Linked DNA regions of Homo sapiens: region 1 is linked to region 2. Evidence: fine-mapped expression QTL. Tissue or cell type: blood mononuclear cells. Region 2 holds a variant in brackets; the other region holds the start of a gene. All regions are shown on one strand. Distances are between the middles of the regions.

Region 1 (8,106 bases), 59 kb before region 2:
GGATGTTAAATATTCATATAATGGTCATACCTGTTTTTGTTTTAGAACATAATCACAACACCGCTATGGATTTTTTTTTTTTTTTTTTTTTGAGATGGGGTCTCGCTCTGTTGCCAGGCTGGAGTGCAGTGCCACTATCTCAGCTCACTGCAACCTCCGCCTCCTGGGTTCAAGCCATTCTCCTGCCTTAGCCTCCCGAGTAGCTGGGACTACAGGCGCGCGCCACCATGCCCAGCTAATTTTTTTTTTTTTTTGTATTTTTAGTAGAGATGGGGTTTCACCGTGTTGGCCAGGATGGTCTTAATCTCTTGACATTGCAATCTGCCCATCTTGGCCTCCCAAAGTGTTGGGATTACAGGCGTGAGCCACCGCACCCGGCCTGTGGATTTTAATTGAAAAAAGATAGTGGTTTTTAGCAAATTACAACTACTGGCTCAGAAGTAATAAATCTAAGCTTCACATTTATTCCATAGAATTATATTGTTTTTCTTATAATGAACATATAATTCATATGTGATATATAGCAGTCATGTTGTTTTATTCTCTACAGGTATGTTCGCAATTCGTGCTGATCATGATTTTGTAGTACAGGAAGACTTCATGAAAGCAGTCAGAAAAGTGGCTGATTCTAAGAAGCTGGAGTCTAAATTGGACTACAAACCTGTGTAATTTACTGTAAGATTTTTGATGGCTGCATGACAGATGTTGGCTTATTGTAAAAATAAAGTTAAAGAAAATAATGTATGTATTGGTAATGATGTCATTAAAAGTATATGAATAAAAATATGAGTAACATCATAAAAATTAGTAATTCAACTTTTAAGATACAGAAGAAATTTGTATGTTTGTTAAAGTTGCATTTATTGCAGCAAGTTACAAAGGGAAAGTGTTGAAGCTTTTCATATTTGCTGCGTGAGCATTTTGTAAAATATTGAAAGTGGTTTGAGATAGTGGTATAAGAAAGCATTTCTTATGACTTATTTTGTATCATTTGTTTTCCTCATCTAAAAAGTTGAATAAAATCTGTTTGATTCAGTTCTCCTACATATATATTCTTGTCTTTTCTGAGTATATTTACTGTGGTCCTTTAGGTTCTTTAGCAAGTAAACTATTTGATAACCCAGATGGATTGTGGATTTTTGAATATTATTTTAAAATAGTACACATACTTAATGTTCATAAGATCATCTTCTTAAATAAAACATGGATGTGTGGGTATGTCTGTACTCCTCCTTTCAGAAAGTGTTTACATATTCTTCATCTACTGTGATTAAGCTCATTGTTGGTTAATTGAAAATATACATGCACATCCATAACTTTTTAAAGAGTATGATTCAACGTAATATTTGCTAATATGTGACTGGGTTTTCTTGGTTTATGTAAGACGATAGGTCCCTGTTGAGGATGTGGAGGTCTGGACCCTCTTCCAGGAAAAATTCTAACATACAATTTTGCGTATACTATAATTTCAGGAAATTTATTGTTTCCCAAGCTCATCCAAGGACTCTTTAGGTATGTATGGATACCTGGCTAAGAGTGTATGATGTAGGGGATGTAGGAGTGTCAGAAATGTTCAAAACATGATTTCTGTTACCTATACATGATTCTTATATCATCTGGCAATAAAAGCTATAACAAAGTACACAAAGGAATCATCATTGGGCATCAATAATTATTAAAGATGCTGGTGAAAAGAAAAGACAACTTCAGTTTCATAAACACTAAAGAACCAAAAATACATGACCTAGCTAATTATACAATAATTCTTCAAATTAAAAACTTCCTAGCAGGATATTATGTGCCTTTTTATAATTTTAGAAGATGAACAGTTAAAATAGAAAATGGAGTGGTCAAGTTAGCCATCTCATACTCAAATTATTGTACAGTTCTATTTCTATGTGTTGGCAGTGCATTTTATGTGACAAAAAGTAGAATGTAGGGGGAGGTTTAAGTCAAATATCTATGTGATCTTTTCACTTATAATTTGCATTTAGTTAAGGAGTGACTATCTTGCCTTTTACCTTTGTGCTGGCGGTGGTTTTTTAAAGAATCAATTTGGTGTACAAATCCTTTCTTTCTTTTTTTATTTTTGATTTTTTTTGAGATGGAGTTTCGCTCTTGTTGCCCAGGCTGTAGTGCCATTGCACTATCTCAGCTCATTGCAACCTCCGCCTCCCGGATTTAAGCGGTTCTCCTGCCTCAGCCTTCTAAGTAGCTGCGATTACTGGCATGCGCCACCACACCCAGCTAATTTTTGTATTTTTAGTAGAGACGGGGTTTCTCCATGTTGGTCAGGCTGGTCTCAAACTCCCGACCTCAGGTGATCCACACGCCTCAGCCGCCCAAAGTGCTGGGATTACAGGCGTGAGCCTCCGCGCCCGGCCCAAATCTTTTCACCATGGGTTTACAGGCATAACGCCACCACACCCAGGGAATTTTAAAATTGTTTTTTAGAGAGGGGGGTCTTACTATTTTGCTCAGGCTGGCAAACTCCTTTTAAAAGATATTGAAAGCCATCTGGTTTATTATTTTTATTTCAAAATATAATAATGGAAGAAATTTTACAGTATTATATACAATTTACTGAGTCAGCTATCAGTTCCTTTTTCTGATTTTTTTCTAGTTGCCATTCTTGATATTTTCTAGGTAATCTAAACTGAGTTGTATTTTCAAGTACTCTTAAAATACTTTAAAAAATTTTAAATTGAGCCGTTTAATTCTTTGCTTAAAGGTGATGGGTATTTTATTTTCTGTATGGCACCACGTGATTTTAAATTGAACTCTTCATTTATTAGTCATTTGGTTATAAACTCAGCATAGATTGCGCAGAATTTTGAGAGGGGAGAAACTATAGCTTTCCTTTCGGATGCCACTGGTGGGTAGCCTGTTTTGCCTGTTTGTTCTTATGTTAAAGAAGGGCTCTACGTCCTGTCTGGAAAGGGCGGAGCTGGCTCGGACCGCCCCACTGCCTTTCCCAGGACCTTCACTCGTCCTGTCCCACCGCAGCCCCGCCTCCTCCACGCCGGGTGAGCTGTGGCCTAGCAGCATCCGAGGCTCCGCCCCCCCCACCCCCAAGCGTCTGCGCTCTAGCGAAGGGGCGGAGCAGGGCGGTGGCGCGCTGACACCTGGCGGCGGCGGAGGGCGGGCAGAAGGCGAGCGTGGGCTGGGATTGGCTGAGGCGACGCGGGTGGAGGGGGCGGGAAGGAGGCGGGGAGACGGTTGTCGGGCTGGTTCCTGTGCTGGATCCTGGGCGGCCTGAGGGGTACGGAGACTCTGGGGGAGGGAGACGGCAGCGGCATGGCGGCCGGGTGTAAGACGCCCGACCCTCCTCTTCCCTGTCTTCGCCGCCGCCGCTGCTGGAGTCACTGGGACCCTGTAGTCTGCGTGTGTTAGTTGTAATCCCGCCGCCCTCCTGTCAGCCCTCCGCTCCGCCGGCCCTCCTTCCTTCCGCCGCCGCAGCCAGCCCGAGGGTCGGCCGGCTGTGTAACACTCTCCCACCCCACCCACCAGCCCGCGGGCCAGCACCATGGAGGACGTGAAGCTGGAGTTCCCTTCCCTTCCACAGTGCAAGGAAGACGCCGAGGTGAGTCGCTCCCGTGGCTGCCACGCACAGGCCTCTCCCTGTGGCTCCGGCCGAGGGGCGACCCCAGTCCCCAACCGTCTTAGCCGCCACCTGTACGGGCGCCCTGCCTCCTAAGGGCGTCCCGGGACCTCTGAAGCCGAGCGGTCGGCTCCAATCCCCACTGAGTTGCTCGTCCTCTCCAGACCCCGCGGAGGGGCAGCGTCTGGTGTACTTACATTTGAGAAGAGGAAAAGCAATCCCTTAGTCCCTAGGCTTGGCATCCAGGACTGACCTGGAGTAAGGTTCCTCTTTTATTGTCAAAGTAACAAGAGAGCGAAGTTGGTTTAGTCTCCTTTTGAGGAATATCTGTGGTGTAAACGATTCACTTGTGGGACACATGGCCCCACATGTGAAATAGACTCGGCGCCTGAAGTTTGGAAGCGCGCCTTCGAAAAGTTTCCCAAAGTTTTTTGTTTGTTTTTAGACAAAGCTATGACCCGCACAACAAAGTGTCTCAAAGCTAGCTCATCTTAATCTGAGAACTCTTAATCAGAAATCTTGACCTTTGGAGGAAAATTAATATTGAAAGTAAAATACTATATACCTTTTCTCCTGGTTTCTAATTTGTGGCTATTTTTACTCCACCTTAGATCCCTGCCTGCTGTTTCTACTCGGATTTTTTTTCATCTGTTGCTAGTTTAACATTTTACGGCATTGCAGACTACTAAATTAGAATTTTCTGGAGGCTAAATTAACAAGACGAAGATACTCAGCTATACTTTAGTAGGATTAAGAAAGAAAATCTAACATCGCTAGTTAAAAATACCTTTAAAGTAGTTGGGAAAAATAAAGCCCTATTTTTAGGAGACCATTCAATTTATTCCGAATATTTATTCTATTGAATATCTTCATTGGAGGTTCACTTTTTTTTTTTTTTTTTTTTTGAGACGGAGTCTTGCTCTGTCGCCAGGCTGGAGTGCAATGTGGCGCGATCTCGGCTCACTGCAACCTCCGCCTTCCGGGTTCAAGCGATTCTCCTGCCTCAGCCTCCTGAGTAGCTGGAACTACAGGCGCGCACCACCACGCCCAGCTAATTTTTGTGTTTTTAGGGGAGACGGGTTTCACCATTTTGGCCAGGGTGGTCTCGATCTCCTGACCTTGTGATCCGCCCGACTCGGCCTCCCAAAGTGCTGAAATTGCAGGTATGAGCCACCGCGCCCGGCCTAGGTTCACATTTTTGTTTGGAGGGCTCTCTTGTGGTATTGATGCTTGACAATTACATTTGTTTTAAGAGTAGAGACTTTGTTTGTGACTATCACTGTTGCAAAATGTAGTGCAGTGGTGTGATCTCGGTTCACTGCAGTCTCGAACTCCCATGCTCAAGCCATCCTTTCACCTCAGCCTCTGGAGTAGCTGGGACCATGCCGGGCTAATTTTTCTTTTTTTTTTTTTTTGTAGCGATGGGTTTTTTCTCCAGGCTGGTCTCGAACTCTTGGCCTCAAGATCCTCCCGCCTTGTCCTCCGAAAGTGTTGGGATTACAGGTGTGAGCCACTGCACCTGGCCCAAGAATATACTCATGGTTTTTTTTTTTTTTTTTTTTTTGACACAGAGTTTCACTCTTGTTGCCCCAGGCTGGAGTGCAGTGGCGCTGTCTCAGCCCACCGCAGCCTCTGCCTCGGGTCCCGGTTCAAACAGTTCTCCTGCCTAAGCCTCCTGAGTAGCTGGGGATTACAGGCGCGCACCGCCAGGCCCAGCTTTTTTTTTTTTTTTTTTGAGACAGAGTCTCACTCTGTCGCCCAGGCTGGAATGATCTTGCAGTGGTGCGATCTGGGCTCACTGCAAGCTCTGCCTCCCGTGTTCACGCCATTCTCCCGCCTCAGCCTCCCGAGTAGCTGGGACTGCAGGCACCCGCTACCACACCGGGCTAATTTTTTTGTATTTTTAGTAGAGACGGGGTTTCACCATGTTGGCCAGGATGGTCTCAAACTCCTGACCTTGTGATCCGCCTGGCTTGGCCTCCCAAAGTGCAGGGATTACAGGCGTGAGCTACCGCGCCCGGCCAATATACTCTTAGAAAACAGGAGGTCATATTTAGGCTAGTTATAAAAATGAATTTATACTTAACATACAATAATGTGAATGAAGAGTATGCTTTTATTTATTTATTTATTTTTTTGAGACGGAGTTTCACTCTTGTTGCCCAGGCTGGAATGCAGTGGCGTGATCTCCGCTCACTGCAACCTCCGCCTCCCACGTTCAAAAGATTCTCCTGCCTCAGCCGCCTGAGTAGCTGGGATTACAGGCGCCCGCCACCACTCCCGTCTAATTTTTGTACTTTTAGTAGAGACGGGGTTTCACCATGTTGGCCCTGCTGGTCTGGAACGCCAGACCTCAAGTGATCCGCCTGCCTCGGCCTCCCAAAGTGCTGGGATTACAGGCTTGAGCCACCGCGAAGGAGTATGCTTTCATATCCTCAAAATGATTCAGTAATTTCAGCACTTAACTGCAAGCAACCTTACAAATAATGTAGAGGAGTCCCACATTCCAGGTGAAGAAATTGTACCTTACTGAAAATAAGTGATGTGCCAAATTAACAACACAGTAGCACAAGACACAGAAGGACCTCGGCCTCCTAATTCATTGTTCTTTTTAATACACTTCAATTCTTCCCTGCCCTAATCTTAAAAATTCTAGTTTAAAATTTTCCCGGACTTTGCATTTAATCTGTTACTGTGTATATCATTATGTATGCCTTATTCCTGCAAAACTGATAAATTCTTGCTGGGAATATATACCTGTCTTTTCTGTGTGGGACTTGAAAACACACTCTTTTTTTTATGCTACCAGATGTGTGGGGGTTTTTCCATACCAAGCAGTTTTCCAGCAGGCATGAACTGAATGTCCCATAATTCAATTCTGACACATATGTACCTGAAGTTAGTCAGATCCCACAGGTTAATGGCTCAGTCCCGCAAGGCTGCCCCCAACCTCAGATGGTAATCACAAGTAGTAGGTTGTCACCTATACACTCCTGACTGACTGTAAATCAGGGTTCCCGTTACTCCCTCCTTGGTTCAGTTAACTTGCTAGAGTGACTTACAGGACTCAGGGAAGTACATTTACGGGTTTATTATAAAGGATACTACAAAAGATCAGTGAACAGCCAGTAGGAAGAGATGAATAGGGCAAGGTATGGGGGAAGGGGCACACCACCATCCCAGTGTCACCAGTAGAGTCATGATTGCAAGCTGTCCAGGTTCTTGGCGTTTTGAACAAAGAATTGGACAAAACTCCAAGCAAAGAAAGAATGAAGCAACAAAAGAACAAAAGCAGGGATTTATTGAAAACAAAAGTACACTCCACAGTGTGGGAGCTGCCCTAGCAGCACTCCCCCCCGACCCCCGCTGCTTTACCGAATCTTCTTGGGTCCAAATACCCCCTAGAACTTTCCCATTGGCCATTCCATGCTCACCTCATGTAAATGAAGAGGTGGCTTGCAATTGGTCTGATTGGTTGCCAGACCCACCCCCACATCAGTCCGCTTGGTTGTGGACAGCGACCATTCAGTGGCTAGAGTGAAGTTACAAAGTTGCAAACGAAGATTCCACCCGCAGTCAGTCTGATTTGTTGAGGACAGCCAATTTCCCGTCTACTGTGCAGAAAAGGTAGGTGGTTTGCAACGGGAGTAGCCTCTGGTCCTTTTGTTACTTAGGCGTGGAAAGTTAGGGTTTTCCCTTCAAGTTAGTTCTGGGAAGTCGGGGTGAAACAGCCTTAGATTCCCTGCCTCCAGACCCTATTCACCTGCCTCACTAGCACCTCCAGTGTTTTCATCCAGAAGCTCAACAAATCTTATTCAACGGTTTTTATAGAACTTCATCTCCATCCCCTCCCATAGAGGTGTGTGTGTGTGTGAGGCTGAGAGTTCAACCCTCTTGTCACATGGTCTTTCTGGTGACTGGCCCCACCCTAAATCACTTCATTAGCATAATCAGGTTTGATCAAAAATAGTGGCTCATAAATAACCAAAGACACTCCTATTAGAAAATTCCAAGAGTTTTAGGAGGACTGTGACAGGAACTGGAGAGAAAGACCATGTATTTCATATTATATCACAGGGACAGAGGTAATGGTTAAAGCTAGTGGATAATGATGCAAGTATTGTCTGCTGAAAGCCAATTCGTTCCGTATTTCTTAATATTGCATGTTTGGTATCTTTTGGTTGCAAGCAACAAAAACGAATTTAAGAAAAAGAAGAAGTAATTAAATCCGGCCGGGCGTGGTGGCTCACGCCTGTAATCCCAGCACTTTGGGAGGCCGAGGCGGACGGATCACGAGGTCAGGAGATCAAGACCATCCTGGCTAACACGGTAAAACCCCGTCTCTACTTAAAAAAAAATTAGCCAGGTATGGTGGCGGGCGCCTGTAGTCCCAGCTACTTGGGAGGCTGAGGCAGGAGAATGGCATGAACCCGGGAGGCGGAGCTTGCAGTGAGCCGAGATCTAGCCACTGCACTCCAGCCTGGGAGACAGAGCGAGACTCCATC
Region 2 (8,106 bases):
ATTCCTGACCTCGGGTGATTCGCCTGCCTCAGCCTCCCAAAGTGCTGGGATTACAGGTGTGAGCCACCATGTCTAGCCACATGTAGCTTTTTTTTTTTTTTTCAATGAACCATGAATAGAAGAAAATTGATGAACAGGCTCAAATTAATTTTTTTTTTTGGCATTCTCAGAAATACTTTACCTTGGCTATGCTAGATATACACTGCAGGATTTTGTTTTCACAGCAGATTTTCTAAAAATCTGTGGTATGGACCAGGCATGGTGGCTCGTGCCTTTAATCCCAGCACTTTGAGAGGCAGAGGCAGGTAGATCACCAGAGGTCAGGAGGTCAAGACCGGCCTGACCAACATGGCGAAACCCTGTCTCTACTACAAATACAAAATTAGCCAGGTGTGGTGGTGGCCACCTGTAATCCCAGCTACTTGGGAGGCTGAGGCAGGAGAATCACTTGAACCCAGGAGGTGGAGGCTGCAGTGAGCTGAGATCACACCATTGCGTTCCAGCCTGGGCAACAAGAGTGAAACTCCGTCTCAAAAAAATTAAATTAAAATTAAACTGTATAGTGTTTCTCAGTTGCATCTAAGCAGCTTAAAAATAGCTGGTGTTTTTCATGCTATTGAAAAGTGATCATGATATTTCCCCCTCTTTTTTGAACATTTAGAAATGAGCAGGTTCTCACTAGTTGTAATGTTTTAAAACTGAGACTAAATAACAGAGAAGTAACGATAGGAAGGATGAAAAACAAATCATACAAAGCATAAAACTGGGGCCAGGGGGCTTCTGTGCAGCACAGAATTGCTAAAAGAAACAGATGCTTCCCAACAATTAAAAGTTGAGTATTCCTTATCCAAAATGCTTGGGACCAGAAATGTTTCAGGTTTTGGATTTTTTTTTTTTTTTTTTTTTTTTTTTTTTTTCAGATTTGGGGATATTTGCATATACATAATGAGATATCTTGGGGATGGGACCCAAGTCAAAATTCATTTGTGTTTCATATACATCTTATACAGATAGCACAAATATTTTACACAATATTTTAAATAATTTTGTGCATGGAAAAGTTTTTGTACATTATACCAGATGTGGAATTTTCCACTTGTGGCATCATGTTGGCCCTCAATAAAGTTTCAAATTTTGGAGTGTTTTGGATTTTTGGATTAGAGATCCAAAAAAAGCAGTCCCCAACTTATTTCTATATCCAGTTAAAGAAACCATATTTTAATGAGAGAACAATTTGCCCAATAACCTAACCCCCAATTGTTCCTTATTTCATAAGTCACAGTATGCTTTAGGGCAAATATTCTTAACTTTTCCTTAAAGATGGATAATAAGTTTCTGCCTGTATAATCCTATGTAACTATATAAGCAATGCTGCAATATACTAGTTATGGGAAGGTAGTGTGATGTGATGTAACAACAGAAGTTAACACTTGCTCAGCACTTCTTATGTGCCAGACTGTTGAAAGAGCTTTACTAATTCATTTATTTCAACCATCCTACAGGTTAGGAGTGGTTATTATCTACATTTTAACAGATGAGAAAATGTTAAGTAACTTGCCCAAGGTCACAAAATTAGCGGAGCCAGGATTTAAACCTAGGCATAGAAAGAGCATGAGCTTTGGATTCATACCTGGTGTTCAAATGTCAACTGTGTGATATGTACTACGGTAATTAAGCTTTTAGAATCTAGTTTCCTCATTTGTAAAATGGAGATGAAATTACTGGGAGAATTAAATGCATTACTGTATGCAGTCATGCACTTAGCAGTGCCTGGAATACTGCAAGTACTTAATAAGATATATGCTAGTTAGCAATAAATTTAAAATTAAAGTTTATAAATTCTTGTTCATTTTTTTTTACCTTTAATTCATGAATCAGGCACTGTGCTGGTTACAGGAACTACAAAAAGAATGACAGGCTCTTACGTTTATGTTATACCAAAAGTTAGCATTCTTGGGTAGAAAAGAACGTAGTTTATAATGTAGACTGCTGAGAGGTCCCCCCAGCCACACACACACAAAATGATTCAAATTATGCTGCATACACTATACCCAGTTCTAACAATATTAAGGAAAATATAGAAATTGTGATGATCAAGCAGTCATTTCAAATTTAACAAGTTTAATAGCCATTCAAAATAGGTTTTTTGTTTTGTTTTATTGTTTTGAGACAGGGTTTTACTCTGTTGCCCAGGCTGGAGTGCAGTGGTGCAATCATAGCTCACTGCAGCCTCAAACTCCTGGGCTCAAGTGATCCTCCTACCTCAGCTTCCCACATCAGCCTCCAGAGTAGTTGTGACTACAGGCTCATACCACCACGCCTGGCTAATTTTTGTATTTTTAGTAGAGATGGGGCTTTGCCATGTTGGAAAGGCTGGTCTTGAACTCCTGACCTCAAGTGATCCTCCAGCCTCAGCCTCCCAAAGTTCTGGAATTACAAGTGTGAACCAGCATGCTCAGCCAAAACAAGTTTTTAATAGATGAAATTGAGTCCACGTGTTTTAGTGTTTTGTCTAAATTGGACCCTTGAGGTTTTTGTGTGTAATCTCATCTGAATGGTAGGTAGCAACATTGTTTTTCAGGTATGTAGATAAACAGGCTAAGTATTAATAAAGTGAAATGTGTACAGTATTAAAAATGTAAATTCCTCGAGGCAGCACACTATTTAAACATTTTGGTCTTGCTATTAAACATATAGTTGTAAATACAAAGTTCAAAGAAAACTCAAAAGAGAATTTAAATCAACCTTAACCACATTTAACTAGATTCCTTTTTCCTATAAAGTTGTCTGTGTTTACAATAAAAATGTGGTCTAGAAAACATGAAAAATAGGGTTAATAATTTTCATGAGAGGGAAGAAGTATACAGGAAAACAACTAGGATTATGAAGCCCTTAAATAATGAATTTTAACCAGGAAATACTAATATTTTCTTGTACTTTTCTTTGATGAGACAGTCCTTTTCCACGAATGATCATAAAAATAAATAATATTGGCTAACACTTATTGAAAACTTTCTATATGTTAACTCTTAAAAATACAATGAACGATGTATCATTATTATCCCAATTTTACAGATAAGGAAGCAGGCACAGTAACTTGCTCAAGGTTAGAGTGCCAATAAGAACAGAGTGAGGATTCAAAATGAGGCAACAGGGCCAGCTTCAGAAGCCCCTGACCTGTGCCGTTACACAGGGCCCTGCACTTAAGTTTGATACCCTGCTGCCACTGTTTTGAAGTTCTTAATTTTTTAACAAGGAACCCTGCATTTTAATTTGGATTACCACAGATTACGTAGCCAGTCCTGCTAGGTAGTATGACTTCAGACTCTGCTCTTAACCATTACACTGAAGATGCACTAGAGTAGATAAATTCCCTATCTTACTGTTGTACAAGGGTTAAAAATTAAGTCATAAGCAGCACTTAGAACCTACATTTGGAAAATGGGAATCAGACTAGTCAAAATACATTAAACAAAGCATTACAGATTGAAATAAGAATCTATTAACCAGGCAATCAGAAATTAACATCAAAAATTTTTTTATGAGCTATTCTACAAAACAGAGCCATACTGAAGGCCCACTTTAGCTCACTCTGTCCTCAAACCGTAAAATTCTGCTGGTGCCCAACTAAGGTACTGGGCAAAGTGAAGCAAGATATGACTTGAAACCTGGTTCCAAGGGGGTTTAGAACATAATTAAATAAGTAATTTTATATAAATAATCTTTTAGCATCTTCAGGTGCCCAGATATTGCAAAACTAGGAAATTTCTGCGAATAAAATTGCACAGTTGTGTGAAGCGGAATCTCATCATATCATTAGGTTCTTTAAAGTTTTTAGATGAACTTTAAACACTAATCCTCCTTAAGTATTCCTCAGAACCTTTTCTGATTAACTGCTAAATTAGCAGGCGTTTAGAAGACCCGTTTAAGCCTAACCCTAGCCCAATAATGCCTAGTGAATGAATAACGAATAAGACTTACCTGTAGGTCACATTTCAGAAAATCCAGAAGGACAAAAAAAAAAAAAAAAAAAAAAATTCCCAAACTGCCACAATATCGCGGAAAGCATACACCAAATTCATTTTTACTAGTCATCACATCAGTTGAATATTTTTTCACTCAATTGAATATTTTTTAAACAAAACTTCAACTATTTGGCGTCTGAGCCTCTGTATCAGGTTGGAATACGAA[T/C]GGGGAGAGAGGCTGCTGCTAGAAGCAACCAACGGAGAGCAACAAGTAATAGACACCGGAGATGAAGATTTTAAAAGTCGATCTACAAATTTTAAAAAATACAATCTAAGGCCAAATCTAAACCAGCCTATGTATTTCTCAAGAGCTCCTGGGGAACCTTCTAAGTACAGGTGAATGGGGGAGGGGCGGACTTCGGATTCCTTTATATTCATTTTATAACAATTTCGATAACAAGAATCCATTCTGAATCTATTCCGTTAAAGATTTTTAACACACCTGGCCATATTTATTAAATTGTGTAACTGCATGAATGTTCAAAAGTATTTTCTGATAGTTTGACCTTTACAATCTAGGCGTTATTCCCAGTCTACCGATGAGGAAGCTGGAGCACCTGGAACTCCCAAGACTTGCCCCTTAGGTAACACAGCAAGTAAGTGACTTGGGGCTAGAATCCTCGTTTTCGCATCTTGAGCTCGATTACCATCCTCAACAGACCCCAATCTTTACATCATCATACCATACAGCTAGCGCTCTCTCCCCTATTTAGCAAATCCTGCCTAAATTAATTTCTTAAGATCCATTCTAGGATTCGTTCATGAGGGATTATCCTAACAAAACGAATCCTATAATCGCCCGTTCAATTTTGTATGAAAATTTTAAATTAGTTTGGCTTACATAAACATCAGCTCCCGCAACAGAAATCACAGTACAGTACTCGGTATTTCTAGGGGTAGGAGCCTAGGAAAAAGAGACAAAGAATGTCCCTCTGTACCCTGGGGAAAGCGCCGACCTACTCGGTGCGGAGGTGGTCTTCGGAGCAGCTGCCTCAATGGCTCCGACCACCGTGGGATGCGCCCGGGAATGGGAGAAGAGAAGGGGCCTGGGACGTTCGTGCCCATTCAAAACCGATGGCTGCAGAGAGCGCGACCAACTGTCTCATTTCCCACGCCAAAGTCTGGGGAGCGAAGTTCCGACCCCAGTCCCAGTTCCAGCCCTGCCAGGCCAAGACCAGCGTATGGCCGGACCGCTGGCCATCATCCTTAACCTCTGCTCCAGGCGCGCGTGCGTTCAACTTCCTGGGAACCGCGCTCCACACCATGTGCACCCAGCTGGCGAGGATTAACGCCCAGCTCCTCCACACAACACCCCCGGGGGCCTGGCCGGGGCACCAGACACACCTGTTAGATAAACCTGAGGGCAGGCCCGCCCCAGCCCCCAGGACACACGGTCCTGCTCTCGCGCCCCGGCCCCGGTCCCTCCTCACCCGTAGAGGCCCTGCGGTCGGCGCTCCTAGCCAGGCGCGTCGGACTCTCCCCCACCAGTGTGCACAGCACCGGATCCGGATCCGGCTTCAGCGCCAGCCCCACCTCCTCCTCCACCGCCCGCGCCACAGTTGGGAACCGCGGCCCAGACGTGGCAGCGCCAACGCCTCCACCTCGCCTCTGCCCCCTCACGCAGGGCCGCGCGCAGGCGAGCGGAGGCGGAGGCCAAGGCGCCACCCGCCCAGGCCCGGAGAGCGAGGGGCGGGGCCCGGAGAGCGGGGGCGGGACCAGGAGGGCGAGGGGCGGGGCTCGGAGAGCGGGGGCGGGACCAGGAGGGCGAGGGGCGGGGCCTGAGGCTCGAGTCGCGGCGCCTGGGGCGGTGGCCGCCGGACCAAAGCTGGCCTCTCCCGGCTCCTCCTCCTCGCTCCCCAAGGCCTTTCCCACCGCGTCATTGTCTCGGTTTATCTGCAGATACGTCTACCTAGCAGTCAGCCCAGCAGCGTAAGTGGTGACCAGTGTGGGCCTCTTTGATCCTGAGACCGAAGGCTCGGCCACTGGCCCTCTCCATTTGTTCCTTGTTGCCCTCCCTTCATGATTCAATCCATTAATTAGGACTTTTCCTACCAGCTGGCAGTTCAGAGCTCCGCATCCCCAGGCCTCTGAGTCACAGTTCCTGCCTTCATGAAACTAGGAGTTGGGGCCACTGCATTCTACTCCTTCGGGACTATTGTTTCATTTCTCAGTCCCTCAAACCCTTTATTGGATGAACATGGGGTTAGGACAGCGGTTCTCCACTGCAACAGTTTTGCCTCCCAGGAGACATTTGGCAATGTATGAATCATTTTCAGCCTCTCATCTGGGGTGAGATGTCATTGGAATCTACAGATGGTGGAGGGCACAGGTGAGTAGAGGCCGGGAATACTGCTTCACGCCTTACAGTGCGCAGGACAGCGCCGCACAACAAAGAATTACCTGGCCTGAAATGTCTGGAGTGCTGAGGTTTAGAAACCTTTCGTTAGGAGAAGAAAAGTGACTTTTTTCAGAGCCCCATTTCTGAAGTGTCTTACCTAAGTAGCACTTTGTCCCTATTTTAACAGATGAGGAAACAGAGGTTCAGAGATGTTACATAATTTACAAAAGTCTCATAGCTAGTAGCTCCCCTTCCTTGCCTTGTACCATAATTTTCAATTTATTGAAATCGCAAAGTATTTTATTCTTAAGCAATAGTATTCAAAGAACCCCATAGATCATATACCAGAAATCATATTTTTTGCTCATTTGTGAGATTTAAATTTCAGTTAACTCCTTTACTGATTTATGCTTTCTCAGAACTTCAAACATCAGTGAGTTGATGGCATCCATATCTCTGTTTTTATCTCTGTTTTTACACCCATACATACAAAAGAATATATAGGGCATGAGCAGAATGTGGTGGTATGCATCCGTAGTCCCAGCTACTCCAGAGGCTGAGGCAGGAGGATCACTTGAGCCCACAAGGTTGAATCCAGCCTGGACAATAGAGCAAGACCCTGTCTCTAAAAAAAAAAAAAAAAAAAAAAAGAATATGTAAGGCATAAATAAAATAAACACTCATGGCTGGGCGTAGTGGCTCACACCTGTAATTCCAACATTTTGGGAGGCCTAAGCAAGTGGATCTCTTGAGCCCAGGAGTTTGAGACCAGTCTGTGCAACATGGTAAAAACCTGTCTCTACAAAAAAAAATACTGAAAATTAGGCAGGCATGGTGGCATGTGCCTGTAGTCCCATCTACTCAGGAGGCTGAGGTAGGAGGATAACCTGAGCCCGGGAGGCAGAGGCTGCTGTGAGCCATGATTGCAAGACTGCACTCCAGTCTGGGCCACAGAGCAAGACCCTGTCTCAAAACAAACAAAAATTTAAAAAAATGCTTATGTACACACCACTAATCTTAAGCATATGGCCCTCCCCGTTTTTCTTATCAGACTTCTGGTCAAATGTTTTCAGTGAGTTTATCCTGTACAACAAACTGCTGTATGTTTTATAAATTAGCAAAAAGTGAAACATAAGCAATTCTAAAATCACAGAACACAAGGCTTGTAAGAGGTACCCCCAGAGATCTCATACTTTCCACATATACTCCTCCTTACCCACATTGGGCCATAAGAACCCAATTTCTCCTTAATAGACAAGGTCGATTACTCTGGCCAGTACAGTTAACCCCTTTCTTTGCCTGTAGGTTCACTTGGCAATGAGGAGCCCAAGATAACCAGGAGACAGTCTCAACTTCTGGTTTAATGGAACCATTGGTATGTCCTTTGGTTGATTTTTATTTATTTTTCTAGATTCTTAGAAGAAATGCTGCATTCACCATTATTCTTTTTTTTTTTTTTTTTTTTTTTTTTTTTTTGAGAGGGAGTCTTACTCTGTAGCCCAGGCTGGAGTGCAGTGGTGTGATCTCAGCTCACTGCAACCTCCACCTCCTGGGTTCCAATTAAGCAATTCTCCTGCCTCAGCCTCTTGAGTAGCTGGAATTACAGGTGCGCACTACCACACCCAGCTAATTTTTGTATTTTTAGTAGAGATGGGGTTTCACCATGTTGGCCAGGCTGGTCTTGAACTCCTGACCTTGTGATCCACCCACCTGGGCCTCCCAAAGTGCTAAGATTACAGGTGT

What was found. PIP is the estimated chance that this variant, and not a neighbour inherited with it, causes the effect.
Region 1: STYX starts here. The variant in region 2 is fine-mapped to the expression of STYX in blood mononuclear cells (TOPMed, PIP 0.93).

Annotation. Positions count from the first base shown.
Region 1 is chr14:52,726,949-52,735,054 of GRCh38, forward strand. It overlaps STYX (serine/threonine/tyrosine interacting protein), which reads left to right and starts at 3,218. Exons shown (of 11, transcript NM_145251.4): 1 at 3,218-3,583. The coding sequence starts at 3,527. It overlaps PSMC6 (proteasome 26S subunit, ATPase 6), which reads left to right. Exons shown (of 14, transcript NM_002806.5): 14 at 551-1,642. The coding sequence ends at 669. RefSeq lists silencers at 2,903-3,362, 3,433-3,512 and an enhancer at 6,963-7,257.
Region 2 is chr14:52,785,973-52,794,078 of GRCh38, forward strand. It overlaps GNPNAT1 (glucosamine-phosphate N-acetyltransferase 1), which reads right to left and starts at 5,635. Exons shown (of 6, transcript NM_198066.4): 1 at 5,456-5,635. It overlaps LOC105370500 (a long non-coding RNA gene), which reads left to right and starts at 5,816. Exons shown (of 3, transcript XR_943867.3): 1 at 5,816-6,354. RefSeq lists enhancers at 4,862-4,951, 5,032-5,121, 5,229-5,742, 5,743-6,257 and silencers at 5,432-5,511, 5,612-5,831. The variant T/C (reference allele first, on the strand shown) is at 4,192.